2 separate regions of the Homo sapiens genome follow, and region 2 is linked to region 1. Evidence: fine-mapped expression QTL. A gene starts in region 1. The other region holds a variant in brackets. All regions are shown on one strand. Distances are from middle to middle.

What was found. PIP is the estimated chance that this variant, and not a neighbour inherited with it, causes the effect. A credible set is the group of variants that fine-mapping cannot tell apart.
Region 2: its variant is the best candidate, but not a certain one, in a credible set for the expression of MAMDC2 in prefrontal cortex (BrainSeq, PIP 0.61).

Annotation. Positions count from the first base shown.
Region 1 is chr9:70,038,521-70,048,137 of GRCh38, forward strand. It overlaps MAMDC2 (MAM domain containing 2), which reads left to right and starts at 5,328. Exons shown (of 14, transcript NM_153267.5): 1 at 5,328-5,711; 2 at 6,064-6,177. The coding sequence starts at 5,678. LOC124902179 (a long non-coding RNA gene) reads right to left here and starts at 5,521. Exons shown (of 2, transcript XR_007061571.1): 1 at 5,434-5,521. RefSeq lists an enhancer at 1-307 and a silencer at 5,313-5,607.
Region 2 is chr9:70,064,999-70,074,615 of GRCh38, forward strand. All of the region lies in intron 2 of MAMDC2 (MAM domain containing 2), which reads left to right. Among named protein-coding and RNA genes, the nearest start is that of MAMDC2, 26 kb to the left of the region's middle. The variant G/A (reference allele first, on the strand shown) is at 3,997.

The DNA of each region.
Region 1 (9,617 bases):
TGGAATGAAGTGGCCTTGAATGCAATAGAATGGAATGGAATCAACATGAGTGGATTGGAATGGAAAGGAATGGAATGGAATGCAACGGAATGGAATGGAATGGAATGGAATGGAATGGCATCTGAAAATCAGGAGTTGTTATATACATATCTGAATATTGGGCTTCTTTTGAAACATGAGCAGTTGGGGTAGAGATGGTTTCTGTAATGCCCTTTAGTTGGACTTACTTACTCCAGTTAACCACAGTCTCCATCCCTCCCTATTTCTTCCGTGTTACCAGATCACTCCATTCATTTACGTGACTTCCTTGGCCTCTAGACTTTTTATATTTGCAGCCTTAATTCTATCTCATCCACATATTTTATTGAAATTATTGTCTCATGGGTCAGTCTCCTGTCTCAGCAGCAGAGGATGTGTCTTCTTGACCCCTGGATTTCCAGCCCCTAGCATAGTGTCTGGCTCACAGTAGGTGCTCAGGAAATGTTTGCTGAGCTTATCATGGCATGACACTGCGTGAGACTAACAAGGAGAGAAAGAAAACAGAAGGGAAAGTGGGCAGTAAAGACAGACTCTGAGATTGGCTAACCTCTGTAGTGCAGTCAAAGGTGCAATCATAAATGCTGGCTTTCTTGCTTTCTTCCCACAGATTTGCTCACACCCCCCAATGCCTCACCTGGCTATGTGGGAAGACACTGGATAGAGAGGAGCAGCAATGCTTCATCTTCCTCACCTTGACCCAGAAAATTAGAAGCAAGAACTTGGTGATCTCCAGGCTAGAAGTGGTACAACAAGGAGCAGAGCCCCTGGTGAAAGGTACCTGGAGGGCGCAAGGAACAGATTGGCAAAGAGCAGAGAGGATGGGCAGGCTCTGTGAGAGGTGAGCATCATACAGGAACCCACAGAGAGAGCAGGGCATAGTGTCTGTGTGTGGTGTAGGCAGCCCTCATTAGGAGAGACAGGCCTGTGTAAGGAGGAAGCATTTAGGGGCAGCATAGTGGATAGCCAGGAGAAGTGGGCATCTGGGATCAAATCCTTGCTGCATGCTGGCTGGACGTGTGACTTTGAGCAGGTTAATTGACCCCCTCTGGTCCTGTCTCCTAGTCTATAAAATGGGGACAATAATGATATTCACCTCATAGGGATATTGCATGGATTAAATGAGATAATGCATGTTAAGTGCCTGGCATGTGTTTACTTAATGCACTCTATATTAGTTTTCTATGGTTGCCAGAACAAATTACTACAAACCGGGTGGCTTAAAAGAACAGAAAGCTATTCACTCACAGTTTCAGAGGCCAGAAGCCCCAAATCAAGGTGTCTGCAGAATACAGTCTTCTGGGGCTCTAGGGGAGAATTTGTTATTCCTTGGCTTGGGGCTGCATCACTCCAATCTCTTTACATGCCATCTCCATCTTTACGTGACCATTTCCTACATGTGTCTGTGCCTTTTCTTCTGACTCTTATAAGGATACTTGCCATTGATTTAGGGCCCACCTGGTAATACAGGATGATCTCATCCCAAGATCCCTAACTTAATTAAATTAGCAAAGTCCCTTTTTCCAAATGAGGTCACATTTGCAGATTCTGGGATACGGATGTATCTTTTGAGCCACCATTCAACCTATTACAATACCTAAGTACTGAGTGCTTTCTGTAAGCCAGAACTTGATATGTGTTATTTGATCAGTTGCTTAAGCTAAATCTTGGAGAATAGCATTCTGGGTTCCTTGGGACCTGATCCTGTTTTCCCAAGTAATAAGAGGGTACCATGTGGGTGCTATGATTAGTGACCAAAGGAAGTTGGTTGACGTAGTTTCTAGATTCTCTGGCTTCCCTCCTCAGTCTTTTTCCCTGCATCCTGACTTAGGCCACATACAATATTTTTTCCTTTCTCTGCAAAACGTCTGTGGTAGGCATTTTTATGCTGTCCAGATCCCCCTTCAAGAAATGACTTTTAGTCCCAGCGGCTTGGAGTATTGTCATCGGCCTTCAACTTCTGATCCTCCCCAGTGCAGAGAGCTGCCTCACTGGAGATCACTTCTGTCCCAGCATAGGCCACAACCAGTGACAGATGGAGACAGCAGTACAAATGCCCTTTCATTTCAGCCTAACATGAGACAAGTTAGATAGGCCATTTTAACTCCATAGTTCCTTGGGGGATTGAAAGAAGCTTTGTGGGATTTGCATTGCAACTCCAATTCTCCCTCCACCCTTTCCTGCTTCCTCTCCCTCCCTTCCATGGCACTGATCCCAAGGTACTCCTGATTAAACACCCTGCACATTAAACTTCAAATCAGAGTCTGCTTCCCAGACATTCTAACTTGTGCCAATGTCTAAGGATCATATATTCTTGGGATCAAACAATTATATGCAAAATAGAAAATTTGGTCTGAGTTTGTACTTATGTATGATTCTGTTCCCATAGGTGGCAATACACAATGTCACGTTAAGGTTGTAAATCATATTTTAAATTTTGGAAGGATCTCTTTAGGGCTTTGAAGTTTTTCATTTTCCTATGACTTAGAACATACGACATGAATCTAAGGCAATTCTAAAACTTTGAAATACTCCTTAAGTATCTGGAAAAAGGAGCACCAGTTTGATTGTTGCTGAAAACTTCTTTAGTTGAAAATAATGTTTTGAGGTTTCGACTGAATGTATAACTGTCTTTGAATTTTTAGTTAAGTAGTGTGATGAAATTCATCAGATATTTAGCACCATCTGTGATCAAGAAGTCAAAAAAAAAAAGAATATAAGACCCAAGTGAGAGAAGTCCTGTACTGGTTGAGAAAATAGGCTTTTGGAATAAAGCAGATCTGGGTTTGAGTTTTGTCTCTACTGTCCACAGTCACTGAACTCTGTGCCTCAGTTTCCCCATCTATTAAATGGGGATAATGAACATATTTATCCTGTAGAGATTTTGTGAAGCTTAAATGAGATTATCTACATAAAACATTTATAATGGTAAACACAATAAATGTTATTATTAGCTACTACCTGAGGCAAAGCATATAAATAAAAAAAGATACATATACACCAAATAGCACACACTAATGAATAAATTTTTGACCATTTGAATCATTGTTTACAGAAAACACATGAAAATTTGTTCCTACCTTTAAAAAAGGATTCCAGATATATTTTCCTTATTAGGGAGAAGGTTACTAATTTTCTAATACTGAAAGTGACATCTGAGTGAAGACCTCATTAGGCGGTGAGTTGTGTGGCTCTTTGTGGAAGAGCATTTTGAGCAGAAAGAACAGCCAGTGCAAAATTCTGAAAGGATAGCTGGACTGTGTTTGAGGATCAGCCAAGAGGTCTGTGTGGCTAGAGAAGAGTAAGCAGGGTGATTGAAGTCAGAGAAATAAGAGGGTGGGGCTGGGTGCAGTGGCTCACGCCTGTAATCGCAGCACTTCGGGAGTCCGAGGCAGGTGGATCATGATGTCAAGAGATTGAAACCATCCTGGCCAACATGGTGAAACCCTGTCTCTACTAAAAATACAAAAATTAGCTGGGCGTGGTGTCACACGCCTGTAATCCCAGCTACTTGGGAGGCTGAGGCAGGAGAATTGCTTGAACCTGGGAGGTGGACTTTGCAGTGAACAGAGATCGCACTCCAGCCTGGTGACAGGGTGGGATTCTGTCTCAAAAAAAGAAAAAGAAGGAAAGCAAGAAAAGAAAGAAAAGGGTGGAGCAGGTCCTATAGGGCCTGGTTGGTCATCGTGAAGACTTTGGACTTTACTAAATGACTTGGGAACTTGTTGGGTCTTGAGCTAAGGAGTGACATGGCCCAATTTCTGTATTAAAAGGATAACCCTGACTAGTGTGTTCAGAATAGAGTAGGGTGGGCAGGGCAGAAAATGAAGGGAGACCGTGGTCAGGAGGCCACTGCGGTATCCCAGGTTGATGGCAAGGGCAGCTTGGACCAACCAAGGCATCACCACCATGGGCACAGAGCATGGTCAGCATCTGCTGTGTTTTGAATCCTGAGCTGATAGAAATTGGCAATGTCTGACAGGAACGGATGAGCTGAAGATGCCTCCAAGTTTTCTCTCCTGAACAACTGGAGGAAAATAGTTCTTTTACTGAGATGAGGAAGACACAGGGGACGGGCAGGTTTGGCAAGAAATATGCAGCCTTCATGTTGGGACCTGTTAAGTATGAAATAGCTCTGAAGCATCCGATTGGAAATGTTGAGGTGGCAATGAGATCGAAGAGTCTGGCGTTAGTGAGTAGTCTGGGTTAGAAATATAAATGTGGGAGTTATCAGGCTATCATTGGTATCTAAAACTATGAGACTTGAGGACAGCATTGAGGGGCTGGATAGAGAAAGAAACAGGAGTGACAGGGAAGAACTTGGAGGCACTCTCATGTTAAGGGGTTACAGAGGTAACGCAAAGAGGCCGAGAAGCGGCGGCCAATGAAAGACCAGGAAACCCAGCGGTCTGGAAGCCAGGTGAAGGCATGGGAGCAGGTTGAACTGATGGCTCAACTGGAGTTTGTTAGGCCAGTGGTCCTCAAAGTATTGTTCCAAACCCGCTGCGGCAGCAGCAGCCTCTGGAAACTTATTAGGGACGTGCAGCCTCTCAGGCCCACTCCAGAGCTACTGGATCGGAAACGGAGGGTGAGGCCCTTCAGCAGATTCTGATGCACCCTCAGGTTTTAAAACCACTGCCCTCCTCACAAAATTGCCTGCACAAAATTATAAATGGGAGAAAGGAGGAGGAGGAGGAGGAAGAGGAGGGGAGGAAGAAGAACTCTTTACAAGAAAAGAATATTGTTGGAGACCCACTTAGTGCCCAAAGCAAACAGCTTCCTCAGAAGTAACTCCCTCCCCAACAACCCCCTCCCAGTGTAAAGCCTCCCATTAATCAATCTATCATGGCTCTTTGGAGAGAAGGAATGCCCCCATTTCACCGGACGGAGGGAATGCTGAGCACCAGGCATGCCAGACATTCCACCGGCTAAAAAAAGTGGGGGTGGTATTCCAGGGTTAGCATTGCTGGACCGTAAACGCTGAAACTCCTTAGATATAAAGCTTATTCCACCCAACCGTTTCCAAATTTTCCTCCAGGCTGTCCTTGGAGAATTCCACCCTCTTTCATTCTGGGGAGAAGAAGTTAAAATTAGGGCCAGCCCTGCGGGACTGACATGCCAGATGCAGGGAAGCTGTCCCCAGAAATAAGCGAGTTCCCACCGCGGCTGGGCGGGGCGGGAGCCTCGGGTCCCAACCCAGCGGAGGGACTCCTGGAAGGCCTGCCCCTTCCAAGTGTCTGCAAGGGCTCTGGTCCCAAGCTTTAAAATCCTGAGCGAAGGCACTGCGGGCCGACCTCTCCTCTCCCAGCCAGTCGTGGCTGGCCTTTCAAAGTGTGCAGTTGTCTCCTCCCTGTCCAGCCCCATCGTCGCCCAGGACCAGCTGGGCCGCGGTCTGACCTGAGGCTGCTGCTCAGCGCCGGGGCGCTGGCGCTCTCCATTCGAGCACCTTCCAGCATACCGCTCGGCTCCGGGAGCCGCTCTGCAAAGTTGGGCAGCTCAGAGCGCAAGCTTTGCCTCTCGACTTCTCCCTCCTTGGGTCCCCGGCGCCCCCGCCTCCCACGATCCCTTTCACTAGGAGCAGCCAGTCCCAGCGGGCTGGCAACTTGCACCCCTTCCTAGTCATCCTCCCTGAAACGCGACCATGCTGTTAAGGGGCGTCCTCCTGGCGTTGCAAGGTAAGGCCTGGACCCCGGGACAACCCCGGGGGCGCTCTGACGACTCGCCCCCGCTCCTGCTGCCCCCGGGGGTCCGGCTCACCGTGCTGGGCTGGGCCATCCGAGGGCGCCTCCTGATCCTCCGCAGCCGCTAACTCCCTCCCCTGGCCAAGCCTGGGGTGGGGGTGGGGGTGGGCGTGGGGTCGCTCAGTGGAGGCGCCCGGGGATGCTGGGGGACAGGTACTGCATCCCTCTCCCGCCCCCTCCCGCTCGTCTTTCCCCCACTTTCACCAGGTAGTCCCCCTGGGGCTCCCCGAGTTGGTGCAAAGGCTCCTGGGTGGAGCTCGAACTGAAACTCGCTTTGTGCCCGCAGCCCTGCAGCTCGCCGGTGCCCTCGACCTGCCCGCTGGGTCCTGTGCCTTTGAAGAGAGCACTTGCGGCTTTGACTCCGTGTTGGCCTCTCTGCCGTGGATTTTAAATGAGGAAGGTAAGGAGGCTCGGTGGAGAGGGGCGCGAAGTGAACTTTCTTCCTTGATGGCTTGCTTTTTTTTCCCACATGGGTAATGTTATCTTGGAGTTAATTCTCCGCGGCAAGAAAAGTGTGAGTCATGGATCCTCCTTCAAGCCCTCAGCTGTGCTGCAAGGGATGGCCGAGGCAGGAACGGGGCGGGCGGGAGGCCGCCCTTTGTTTACCTGGCCTATGGGTAGAAGCTTAAAATTTGCGTCTCACCCCAGCACTCCTTAATGGAAGGGAGAAACGGAGCACAGCTAATGATTGTTCTCCGCTGTGGGCCTCTGCAGGCACACCAGCTGTGTGCCTCTGCAGGCCAGCAACCTTTCTGGTCCTCAGGAGACATGTCTGTGAGTTGGGAAAAGTTGCATGGGACTAGTTCTCCTTCAGCTTTGCAGAAATGGTTCCACAATTCTGTGATGGGACGTCAGTGCTAAGACATCACGTCTGCCTTGACCCTGACAGTGTTTTTTGCTGCATGATTTCATCCTCACACTCCTGTTTGTAATCCTGCCCTGGACAAAAGAAACCATGTACACTGCCAAATGCCTGGGGTCCCTGTCTCACTGGTGGTCATTGTCTTACTACTCTATACTGTTTGGGTCCCAAGGACAAAGTTTAAATGTGGGGTCTTCTGAAGTGTCATCTTGCCTTTATATAGTTTTTTTTGTTTTTTGTTTTAAAGTGTGGTTCTCAGTACCCAATGGCAGGCGGCACTGGGTGTCCCTTCTTTCCTTTCTCTCTCTTTTGTCACCACCAGTGAAGCCTGATGCCCACAGACTATTTGGATTGGAAAATAGCCTTCTTTAAAAAACATGGTACCCTAGATGAAACCAGCTCACCTCCTTCCCCACTCAATTGTCCTCAGGCCGCAGATCCTCCCACCTCGCTCCCTGGGGGAGGATGGAGCCCGGAACCCCTGGTTAGATGTATGAACTGTCACCACAGCTCACTCTGCCCCAGGCTTCTACTCAGGGTTCTGCATACATTAGCTTCTCTGACCCTCACAGGTAGGTGATGTTGGACCCGTTTTACAGAGGAAGGAATCTCAGCCATAGAATATTCAAATGGCTAGTCCATATCACAGTGTCACTGAGTGGCTAACTCTGAGTGTCTAGTTAGGAAGAAACAGGAAGGAACTGGTTCAGTAGTAATCTCCATCTTTATCCAACAATTGCCAAGTCTTGACTACTACAGTCTACTTAGGGGTGGCTGGGAAAAAGCAATTCTTGATTTATTATTCGAGGGATTCCTATCTTGCTGATGGCTTTAGGAAAGTCTCTGTAATCTTGCCACTCACCCTTTCCCTATACTGGCTGTATGGAAGCATTGCGGGAGATGGCCTTAGAAATGCCACGAGACTGGCTTTGGAGAGCACACTCCTCCAGCACGGGGCTTCTCAAACCTCAGCTGCATCAGAATCACCTGGTGGGCTTGTAAGACACAGATTGCTGGGCCCCACTTCCTGAGTGTCTGATTCAGGGGGCCTGAGAATTTCTAACAAGTTCCCAGGTGATGCTGATGATGCTGGTCTCGGGACTACACTTTGAGAACTGCCGACTTCCACAGTCTGTGTACACACACACACAACCTGTGCTGTTGTTGGCTCTGAGTAGGTCTGGCACTAGGGTGAAGGAGCTACTTGCAGGACCCGAGAGTGAACAGCTACTTAAGTCTTGTTCCCTAAGCACTTGGCTTGCCTCATCCTAGTGCTGGCCCTGAGAAAAGGAAATCAACATCATTCCTTAAGCCAGGAGCCTTAGTTAGTCTCTGAGTTCCTGCCTCCGGCCCTCTGTCAGGATGGGGGCCCCCTCACAGCCTGCCTCTGGTCAGTGGGCATGCCACAGCCTGCTGAACACAACTGCCTCCCAGACCCACAGGAAGTCTCTCTGCTGAGTTGGCACCTCTGCCCCAGGACAGCAGTTAAACCATCCCCCTTCAGGGAAAACAGGAAGATGCTTATAGAAAAAGGTGATTACAGTTTAATAGTATAACGAAGGCACTGTGGCTTTGCTTTCTGCATTCTTTCTAACAACCACTGCTTTCTGGCTCAGGACTGGGACTACTGGGTTGGCTGGCGGAAGTTAATTCATTCTCCTCTGAGCACTCCAGGGTGGAGCAGGCAGGTTAGGCTCCAGTTGTTCCAGCTTCAGTTTGTCAAAGGCCAGAACTTGGACGTAACAGTGTACTGCAGGCTCCAGGGCAGTGAGGTAGGTGTGTGGCAGTTGCTGTGGTTGCCTAAGAAGACATCGCTAAGAATTTCCCTTATAAGCCCATTTCTAGGTTGGTAAATTAAAGATAATAAAATTCTTCCAGGCTGAAATTTGGCAAGCTGTTCACAAGCTTCTCTGCAAATGCACTTCTTCCTGCAGAAACCCTTTGAAACTGGTTCCATGGTTCCATTCACCTTCATGTACTGGATCCACCATGGAAAGTAGTGGGTTTCAGAGACTTTTGCCCACATGCACTTCTTTTTTTTTTTTTCTTTAAGTTCTGGGATACATGTGCAGAATGTGCAGGTTTGTTACACAGGTATAAATGTGAATGGTGGTTTGCTGCACCTATCATCCCGTCATCTAGGTTTTAAGCCCCGCATGCTTTAGGTATTTGTCCTAATACTCTCCCTCCCCTTGCGCCCCACCCCCAACAGGCCCCGGTGTGTGAAGTTCCCCTCCTTGTGTCCGTGTGTTCTCATTGTTCAACTCCCACTTATGAGTGAGAACATGAGGTGTTTGGTTTTCTGTTCCTGTGTTAGTTTGCTGAGAATGATGGCTTCCAGCTTCATCCATGTCCCTGCAAAGGACATAAACTCACTCTTTGGTATTGCTGCATAGTATTCCATGCTGTATATGTGCTACATTTTCTTTATCCAGTCTATCACTGATGGGCATTTGGGTTGGTTCCATGTCTTTGCTATTGTAAATAGTGCTGCAATAAACATATGTGCCAGATGCACTTCTTATATGTCCATGGTCCGTAGGTTAATTTATTGTGGAGAGAACAATGCAAAAGGCCAGAGAAGGAAGGTAAGTTGGGACACAAATCTGCGAACTGGGGTTTCATCACAGGAGAATCAAATCTGGAGGTAGTTGGAAAAGTCTCCTTGTCTCTAAATATCCCCTTTGCTGCCTGAAATAGTTTCTGAGGTTCATGCCTTTGATTTACAGTATTAAGTCCCTAGATGTCCCTGATTACAGTTCGAGTGTCTCTATTTCATGGCCACTTTAAAATATGCTTTATCTCCACTGGACACAGAATAGGTAAGTTTTGACCAGGCATTGTGTTGGCTTGGGTTATTTATCCCAATGGCAGTTTCCCCCAGGGAATGCCAGGTGCACCATACAGGGCATCGGGCACTGAAACCCAGTTTTGTCTACTTTCTCATTTTGCCCATGGTTGTCCTGCTTTCTTGATCT
Region 2 (9,617 bases), 26 kb after region 1:
ATATTTAGGGAAAATACTTAATCTTAGCTCCATCTGTCTATATGAAATATAATGAAAGAATCAATCAGTAAAACCTCCCTCTGTCAAAATCACACAGGAAACATACTAGAGAAACGACTAACAGGGATTACGAGCTACTTATCCAAAAACCATGTGTATCGGTTTTCTAAATCTTGAAGGCAAGTGTAAAATAGAACCTTATTATTGAAAACTCATTTTTGCCTTTGAAAAGGTGTTTTGTGGTGAACATTCTAGTACATTCAACTTCTCCATATTGATAAGATTTGCTATTTATGTTGCACAAAATGTCACGGATTAAAATAAAATATATTCCAGCTTAAGAATCCCTCTTTCTGTCCAGAAAATCAAGAGTTTTGATGACTACTAATCTATCCATATGTAAATATTTGGGTAGTTTAAAATAGTATTTTAGTCTATTTTAAATGGCTTTGCTTTAGGAGATGCCTAAAGCACATTTCTATTCTGGTGGCTTTGAAAAATCCTAATTGGAAAAATGATGTAATTTTCATCTAAGAGAATAAACTGTGTCTCATCCAAGCAGGAGTCAAAACCCCACGTCCTTTTTTTTTTTTTTTTTAATACATGGAGGCCCCTGAAAGTTAGAATAAGGCAGAAAAACCATGTAAAATTATGATGTTGCATTTTGATAGAAAACGTGTACTTCACTCCAATCCCTGGCCTGGTCATTGGGTTGAGACATTGAGTGGAGTACACTGTGTTTCTACCAAAATTATTTCACAATTTCACTTGTTATTTTTGTAACAATTACCAAAGCTCATGATTCTTACATTGCATAGCCCTAATGAACATTTTCCCATTGTTTTTTCCACCCTCCTATTCCTTGCATGTTTGCAGAAGTTTTAGTGGATGCCAAATGTTGTTCTTGAGCAAGTTTGTTTATTTAGTCATTTTTCCTTTCAAGAGAATCTATTGATACCCACAGTATTTCAAATCATAATGTAGGGCCTGGGATATAGTAGTGAATGAAACAAAGTTCCGACTCTCCTGAAACTTATATTCTGGTAAGGGGAAACATGACATTCACAAACACATAAATAATCATATATGGTATCGTGTCCTATGAAAAATTAGGGTAAGAGGATAGGTATGAAGGAAGATTGGGGCAGTTCAGAAAGACCTCTGTCACAGCTCAGCAGAGACCCAAGGGAATGGGGCAGCCAGACATGCGACTCTCCAGGTTCCAAGTGCTCCAGGCAGAGGGGAAAGCAAGGGCAAAATCCCTGAGGAAAGGGGGTGCTTGGTGAATATGAAGAACTGTCAAGAAGCCAGTGTGCCTGGAACAGAGTGAATAGGAGCAAGACAGAGTAGTAGAAAATGAAGCAAGAGGTAGCCAGGCCAGAGCACTTAGGAACTAACAGGATTTACCTGAATAAGTGGGAACTGGGTGACTTTGAGAAGAGGAAGGTCACGTCTCTTTTCCTTTTAGAAGAATCTCGCAGGCTGGTGTAGGTAGTATACTGTGCAAGGGCGAAGGGGAGGTAGGGGGGCAGCTAGAGGTTACAGTTCAGACAAGAGATCATAGTGGCTTAGGAAGGGTTACTGCAGGGCCATGGTGTATGATGGTACAGGTTGTTCGCTACCCAAAGGCATCTGGCTTTTCTCATCAAGCCAGGGGTTGTGCCAGCCAAAAGGAAAAGCTATCTTTTTCTAATTGGCATCCCAGAGTGGGGGTTTTTCTACAATTCATCTGTCTTTTGCTAAATTGCATGCTGGTGCTAAAAGTATGTACTAGCAATGGTGCTGATGGGTCACAGTAGAGATAAGTGGGAAGTGGTCTTATTAAGGATATATTTGAAGAATAAAGCCAATGGGATTTGCCGATAAAGTAACACATAAACAACTCAATTAATAAATTAATGAATTAAGTTCATCAATATCTGGGACCTCTGTCACTCCTCCTTGTTGCAGGTGGGTTCCCTAGAAGCAAACCCCAAGGAGATTAGCAAGTAGGAAGTTTATGAGAGGGTGCTCCTGGGATCAACACCTGAGGAAGAGAAAGGGAAGAATCAGGACTGGACAGAGGTAGAAATTGTGTGGCAATGCAACCTCAGTGAAGGCCTCAGCCTACTTCATGGATGTTCTAGCTCCGGGATGACACTTTTGTGTTTTTCCAAGTCGGGGAAAGAGGGTTAAACCCTGTGTCTAGTATCCAGAAAAAGGCATGTGATCTTGGATGTGCCAGCTATTTTCACTGAAGGCATTCCCCAGAGAGGGCTGACCAGGGGAGGCTGCTTTCCAGTGGCTGTCCCACCATCTGGAGTAATAAGCCCTTCAGTCCTGAAGAGGGATCTGCAGCACAGCATCTCCACATCCCATGGAGGGACACTCCCTGTCCCTCATCTGTGGCATAGATATTGTCAGGATACTCTTTTCTGCTTGCTCAGATACAGCTTCCAGTAGATTTCCGGGCAGCTACCAACAATCCCATCAAATGGCTCTGCAGTGGAACTCATTTACCTTACACATTTTAGGAAAAAGGTTGCCCATATCCCTACCTTCAGCAAAGTTATCAAGTACAGGACAAAAAGTGTACAGTGAGCAAAAAGTAATTGATTCCAAGCTCTTTCATCTGAAAAGGAGCTCAGGTGATCCTAGGGGCCAGTCATTGGCTGGTATGATCTTACATGTGTTTATTATCTAAGGATAGGATCTTTCAGTTCGGTGATGTAAGTGGGAGATGCAGCTCATTTGGATAATTTAAGAAAATCACATTGTTTATGAGGAAAACATCTCTTAGACACTCTTTCTAGGTGCAATAGGCCTGCCTGCCAGTATGGCCCACCAGTGTGGTGTTGCCATGACAAAAACTCCTCATTGAGTCACTAGATCAGAGAAGCAGACCTCAGTGTGCCACCTTGGGCAGCCCCATGCAGGTCTGAATGTGCTGAGCCATGTGATCTTATACAAGGACTTGTCTACATTTTATTTTCAACATCTTTAAAATGAAGAGAATCCCTAATCTGTGTATCCCATAAAGAGTCCTGTGTGGCTCAAATGAACTCGTCTGAGCTGATACAAATTACAAACTTTAAAGCATGCTACCATCGTGAGCTGGTATAGGACTTATAAAGAGAATCCAGAGAAGAGTTAAGCTTGATGGTTTTGACATCTCAAAAGTATGAGAGACTATAAAAATATTTATTTTGGTTAGCTTGTGAAATAGGCAAAGGGCTATTTTATGAGTATTCTGGGCACAGATGCTACTTCTTAAAAGGCACGATAATCACTCTGCATCTAGAGTAGCCTGTATTTGAGGCACAGCCTGGAGTTGGGGATCAAGTGCAACAGCATTTATTGAGCACCTCCTCTGTGGGGGTAGGGAGCACTGGGCTGGATAGGATTCAATGACAGTGGAGGCAGGGACCTTTTCTTCAAAAGACTAAAAGCCAATAGGGGGCCAGGTACAGTGGCTCATGCCTGTAATCCCAGGACTTTGGGAGGCCATGGTGGGTAGATCACTTGAGGTAGGAGTTTGAGACCAGCCTGGCCAACACAGTGAAACCCCATCTCTACTAAAAATACAACAACAACAACAAATTAGCCGGGCGTGGTGGCAGGCACCTGTAATCCTAGCTACTCGGGAGGCTGAGGCAGGAGAATTGCTTGAACCCGGGAGGCAGAGGTTGCAGTGAGATCGCACCACTGCATTCCAGCCTGGTTGACAGAGTGAGACTCCCTCCATCACAAAAAAAAAAAAAAAAAAAGGCAATAGGGAACAGGAAACAAACATCTAAATTCCAGGACAAATGTGATATGTGCAACAGGACAGATACAAGCATGTCTCCAGGTCCAAAGAACGGAAGAGTTTTATTAGGGGACAGAGGACAGCAGAAAAGTTTTCTTAAAGAGGTAGACATTACAATGCTGTAATGAATGGGTATGATTTAAAAGTTAGGTAAAGCAAGGCAGATATAAGGCAAAGCCTCAAAAATAGGTAACAAAATTTATTCCAAT[G/A]AAAGAATGGTTCAATGTGATTGCAGCAAACAACAGTGTGGAAGAATTTGCTATTGCTTGGAAGGGGCAGAACCCGGTAGAAGGATTGTGTGTGCACAAGAGAGGAATAAGCTGAGGAAACCCGAGATTCAGCCTTGGCTTATGAATCCCCTGGACAGTACCTTCTCTTTCTGTCACAGATTTTTCATCTCATGTGTGCCATTTCAGTTGCATGCACACCAAAAGAGTTATTATTCTTGTTGTTCCTGTTTTGTTTTTCTGTTAACATAGTTATTACTTTCCTGGTCAAGTGTAAAGAGCCACATGATTATTAATAGTAATTATATTTATTATAGCCACAGGTATTTTAAGTGTTTCTCAAATTATAGCACAACTTTCTTATGCAGCTGTTATCTCCACCTGCTTTGTTGGCTAACGTAATGTTAACATAAGCCTCAGGAGCCTCAAAGTTTTTGTGTATCAAACAGCCAAGGCTTGTCATTGTAAACACTTTATAGACGATAGGGTCAAAAGCAAATTTTTAAATATGCATAGTCTTTGGATAATTTATTTAGAATAGGATACCTGATAAGTTTTAACATTGAAAGCTACTTTGTTCCTTAATGGCTAGTAGAGGCTAAAAATAGTCCAAAGTTTGTTTCAAAATAGAAAAGGGAAAAGGTTCCAACTCCTGAGATGGAGAACTTTTTGAAGATGATTGTCAATATTTAGCATTGGTCCCTATCCACACTTTAGCACCTGGGAGGGAATGGCTTTGCTTTCTGGAATTTCTTGCTCCTGAAGAGTTACAGGAAGAGTTGGAGAAGAATTTCAGCCAGAAACATTTGTTCTTTTGGTTGTTCTCGCCTTGTTTCCTAGGACATCGTTTTCATGTCAGCATGATCTTGGCTGAAGAAGAATTTATTCCTCTTGACATATTCCTCAACTAAGAATAACAGTCTCAATGTGTCTTTTTGCAACCCTGCCTGAAACTGCTCCAAGATCCCACTCAGGGGGAGGTGTTTGCAAAAGGGATGAGCTGAACTTTGGAAATAGCGTAGGGTGAGTGAGGTTGTATTTTCACTGTGCATTGTTAGAAACCAACATACTATGTGGGAGATTCACTAATACCTAAATCCTTCCTTGGCCAGTAACTCTGTGATTTCTTGAGCTTCCTAAGAAATATCCAGGCACAAAATGGGCATGGGCCTGACTGCTCCTTGGGAGGAGAAAAAGCAAGGTCTATCTTTATCCTATGGAAGACTGGTCCTGGACCTTTTCACTCCAGGCATGTGGAAAGAGAAAGAGAAAAAGGCTAACTCCATGTGGCCTTATAGACTTTTTAGCTCCACTGCTAAGAAAAGAAAATTTGGCTCAGTCCTTATCAACAGTTTGAGGAATCACCCTCTTTTTTGGAGAGCGGAGTTTCCTTATCTTAATCTGAGCCTATTGTTTTAAAGAAGTAAGGTAAAAGGTAGGGAGTTTGAGCCATCAGCTCTACAAAACCCCACTCACTGCAATGTAGTATAAATATCTGTAGGTGTTGAGCAACATCCAGAGATTTGCATCATTGAATATGCATGGCTAAGCACATAGTAGGTGTTCAGTAACTTCCTACTAATTGAATGTTTGATTGATTAGAGAGACAAGAAGATCTTATAACAATATATTTCATCTATGATATAGTCTTGTGGCCTGCAAGTTGAGTACTGAATTATATTCAAACTTCAGTCTATTTTGGGTCCATCTTTATAGGTATTGATTTGTCATAGATCCTTGCCTACTGTACTTACTGTCTTATCCCATTTCTTATTTGCCTATTTTCCTACATATATTCTATAGCAGAATATATTTTTCTGCCATTTCTACAGTCAATTTTTTCCTCCCTCCTTTTTAAGGTAAATATTCTGAGATATAAATATATAACATCACTAAAAAGTATTTCGATAAATAGTGTTGCTATTTGCAAGGCCTTCAAAAAATCATGATCAATTAAATATTTGCATATCAATGGTCATTTATTTATACTAACCTTTTAATGCCAAATATCCACCGTCCAGAACTCTATAAACAGGAAATGAAAAAGGACCTAGTGGAATTCCTCCACAGACAGTTTTCAGAAGGTCAGAATGAGAGGCCTTTTTGGTACTGGTTTTGATAGAGTTAACTTGGATTGTGTTGGGTTAATAGTGTGTGCTTTACCATATGTTTTAAGTATCTATTCCTTGTAAGGAAGACCAACCGTGAGATGAAGGAAAACTCGAGAGTAGTACTTGATTTACGTAAGATGTCATAGTTTCCTTTCACAAATCAGAAAATTCCCTGATTGAAGAGTCTGTGCTACAGCCCAGGGGTTCCAGAATTCAGAATTTACTCTATTTTTTTTCCATGCAAGTAGAAATAATTAGCTAAGGAACCAAGCATGAATCATAAGTCTAGGGTTTTGGTGAAAATATTTTTATGATCTTCTAATTTCGTAGGATTGAAATGACTGCTTATTTAACTTCTCTGAGCTGAATTGTCATATGCCTTACTTATTTCCCTGGATTGTGGTGAGGTTAATGAAGGCGGTGGAGACACAAAGTGTTTTGTGAACCTTAATATTCTATACATACGTGAGGTGTTATTTTTATTCTTATCAGTAAGATAAAGCCAAAGAAAGAGTTTGCATCATACAGCCTTTGGGTAATTTTTTACTTCTGCAGTGGTTGAAAGCATTTCCATTTGGGGAGTTGATGAGAAAGAGTATCAACAGCCAGCAATTCTGGAGAGAATGCACACAGACAATATTTAAAAAAAATTAATAAGTTGGGGGGCAGAGGGAGAGCACGTGAGCTTGGAGAATATTACTTATGAATAGATGAACAAAGGCTGAAGGAAGGGACCAAAAATGAAATTGGCGTTTCTCTTTAATTTACCTAAAAGTTTCTGGAAGCATATTACAAGTACATTACAAAATACAATATGAAGGAGGTAACTTGAGAGGCTGAATTTTAAAATTCAAATGTAAAATGTTTAAAAGAGCCCTCGTTTAGACTATTTGAGGTACTGCTCAGTATTAAAACCTTATCGAGTTTATTAAAGATCAGCTGTCAATTAAGTAGATGTTATCAATATGACTGACAATAATAATTTCAGATTTATTTATTATTAGAAAGTCTTTAGTGTTTTGGTAATTTGGGGAAGGTAGAAGATACTGACCCTCACCTAGTTTATTTTGTTTTAAATTCTGATGTAAAGTACAATGTATCATGTTTTCCTGACCATCAGTGTCACCTCAGCATAACCCGGGAGGTGCTCAAATAAATGTGGTTCACCATGATCACCAGTCCCACTGTGGGGTGACTGATCTGCCTAAAGCCCAAGTTTCCAATGAGTACATTCCTGAGTCTGGCTGAGGCTTCTTTCCTCAAGGTAAGAACTCAAGAATTCATCCTGAATTCTAGTCCTTTCCAACATAGATTACAAATGCTCTTAATTTTAGAATGGTGATACTGTATCTAATAGAATAATAGTAGTAGCTTTATACTTATCAATGTTTTCTATATACCAGCCATAATTCATTGAATCCTCACAACAAATCTATGAGCTGGACATTGGTATTATTATTATCCCCACCGATAGATGAGGAAATGGTGGCACGGTGAAAAAAGTTAAGTAACTTGCCCAGGCTATATTGAGTTGAATTTGAATCTAGGGAGTGTGGATTCTTCACCATGAGACTGTATTGTCTCTTTGAGCTAAATAATTGTGTCTATCTCTGCCATTTAAGAAAAGAAAAGGTTAAGACAAAAAAAAGTACACTAAAAATTAAAGGCAAAAAAAGCAAATTTTTTTTAAAAAAAGATGAAAACACATTTTCATTCTATTTTTTTTTCTTATTTGGAGACAGAGTCTCGCTCTGTCCACTGGAGTGCAGTGGTGCAATCTCGGCTCACTGCAACCTCCGCCTGCCAGGTTCAAGCGATTCTCCTGCTTCAGCCTCCCGAGTAGCTGGGATTACAGGCATGTGCCACCACACCAGCTAATTTTTGTATTTTTAGTAGAGATGGAGTTTCACCATGTTGGCCAGGCTAGTCGCAAATTCCTGACCTCAAGTGATCCCCCACCTTGGCCTCCCAAAGTGCTGGGATTACAGGTGTGAGCCACTGAATCCAGCCTATTATTTCTATTTAAGATGCAACAGAGATTTGTGTAAGGAAATGACAAATAGGCAGTGCAAGTAAAGCTTACATATCTGCAAATGTCTTGCCAAGCTTAAATATCTGAAAATACGTGGTTTAAAAGGAAGAAGGCTTTCACTTCTGATAAGCCAAGTTTGTTTTAATTTGTGGTACTTGTACATCTTGTACCTGAAGAGCACTGAATATTTATAATAAAGGTTCCTAGTTGTTTTAAAACCAAAACAAAAATAAGAGCTGGTGTAGGGGCTGATTCATCCCAAGAGGAAATTCTTGTGGAGTGGACTCTCACTTTATCTTGTCCAGATTCCTGAATGGTCACTTCAAATGTCAATGTGATCTCTGCAGCTTGGATACCTCTCCTTAAGCTACTAAAGGGTCTCATGAACTCTGGGTTTTGGCCGAGGACATTGAAAAGACTAGTTGGAAAAAACTACCATTCTGCAGTGATTCATAGGCAGTATGCTAGCAGCTTTCAAATAATGTGAATTATATACAGGATCCTAGCAATTTTCAAATAGTGATCAAGTAAAAGTTGTTGATGGTTCTGGTATAAACCATGAATCTCATCTCACCAAGACGAGTGCTGGGAAGGAAGGGGTTAGAGTTTCTCTCCTGGCCTGGCCACAAGCCCCTTCTCTCATCATTCCAGTCCTGATGGTGTCTTATCCATGTTTGTCTCTTCTACATCTTACATTGGTCTTAACAGTGCCTGTGATTACTTCAACATGTAAACAGCCAAAGAGAACTCTGTCTGCAGCTGTTCAAAGCTCTGTCCTCCAGCCATGTTTCTTAAACTCTTGGGGTCATGAGCCCTTTTGAGAATCTGATGAAAGCCATGGATTCTCTCCCCAGAAAAACAGACATGTAATAGTTTGTGTATGATGTCATGAACCTCTGGAATCAAATCCTCTACCCCAGGGTAAGAACCCTGCCCTTAATAGCTTTAAATGAAAGGATGCTGTTTGACATCCAGGCTCCTTCTAACTCATGCTTAGCCATTCCTAAGTGTGGCCCTTATCCTCATGGTCTCAGGCAGTGGCAAATTCTCCATCTATTATGAATGTATTTCAGGCAAGAAGATGGAAAGTAAAGATAATTTTTAAGGGCATTTCCTACAAGATGCACTTAAAACTTATGCAACTTTTAAGGTTCCATGGGCATGTGACTGCTGCAGTGAAAAGCAGACAGTTAAACCATTTTGAAATTCTTAAGAGATGTATGTTTGAGTCTGTTCTGTAACTGAAATCCAAGGGGACAATGGGGCATGTGCAAACAAAGTGGGCAATACCCTGAGGGTAAGTGGCTCTCTCACCTGGATGCCTCACCTGTCCCAGTGTGCAGAGGCTGCAGTACCCTTAAAGGTCACTGTCTGCAGGGGGTTGGGACAGCAAGACGGTAGGCAGAGGAGATGCCTGGCTTGCTTTCCCAGCCGCCACCAAGGCACTGAATACAGAGCTG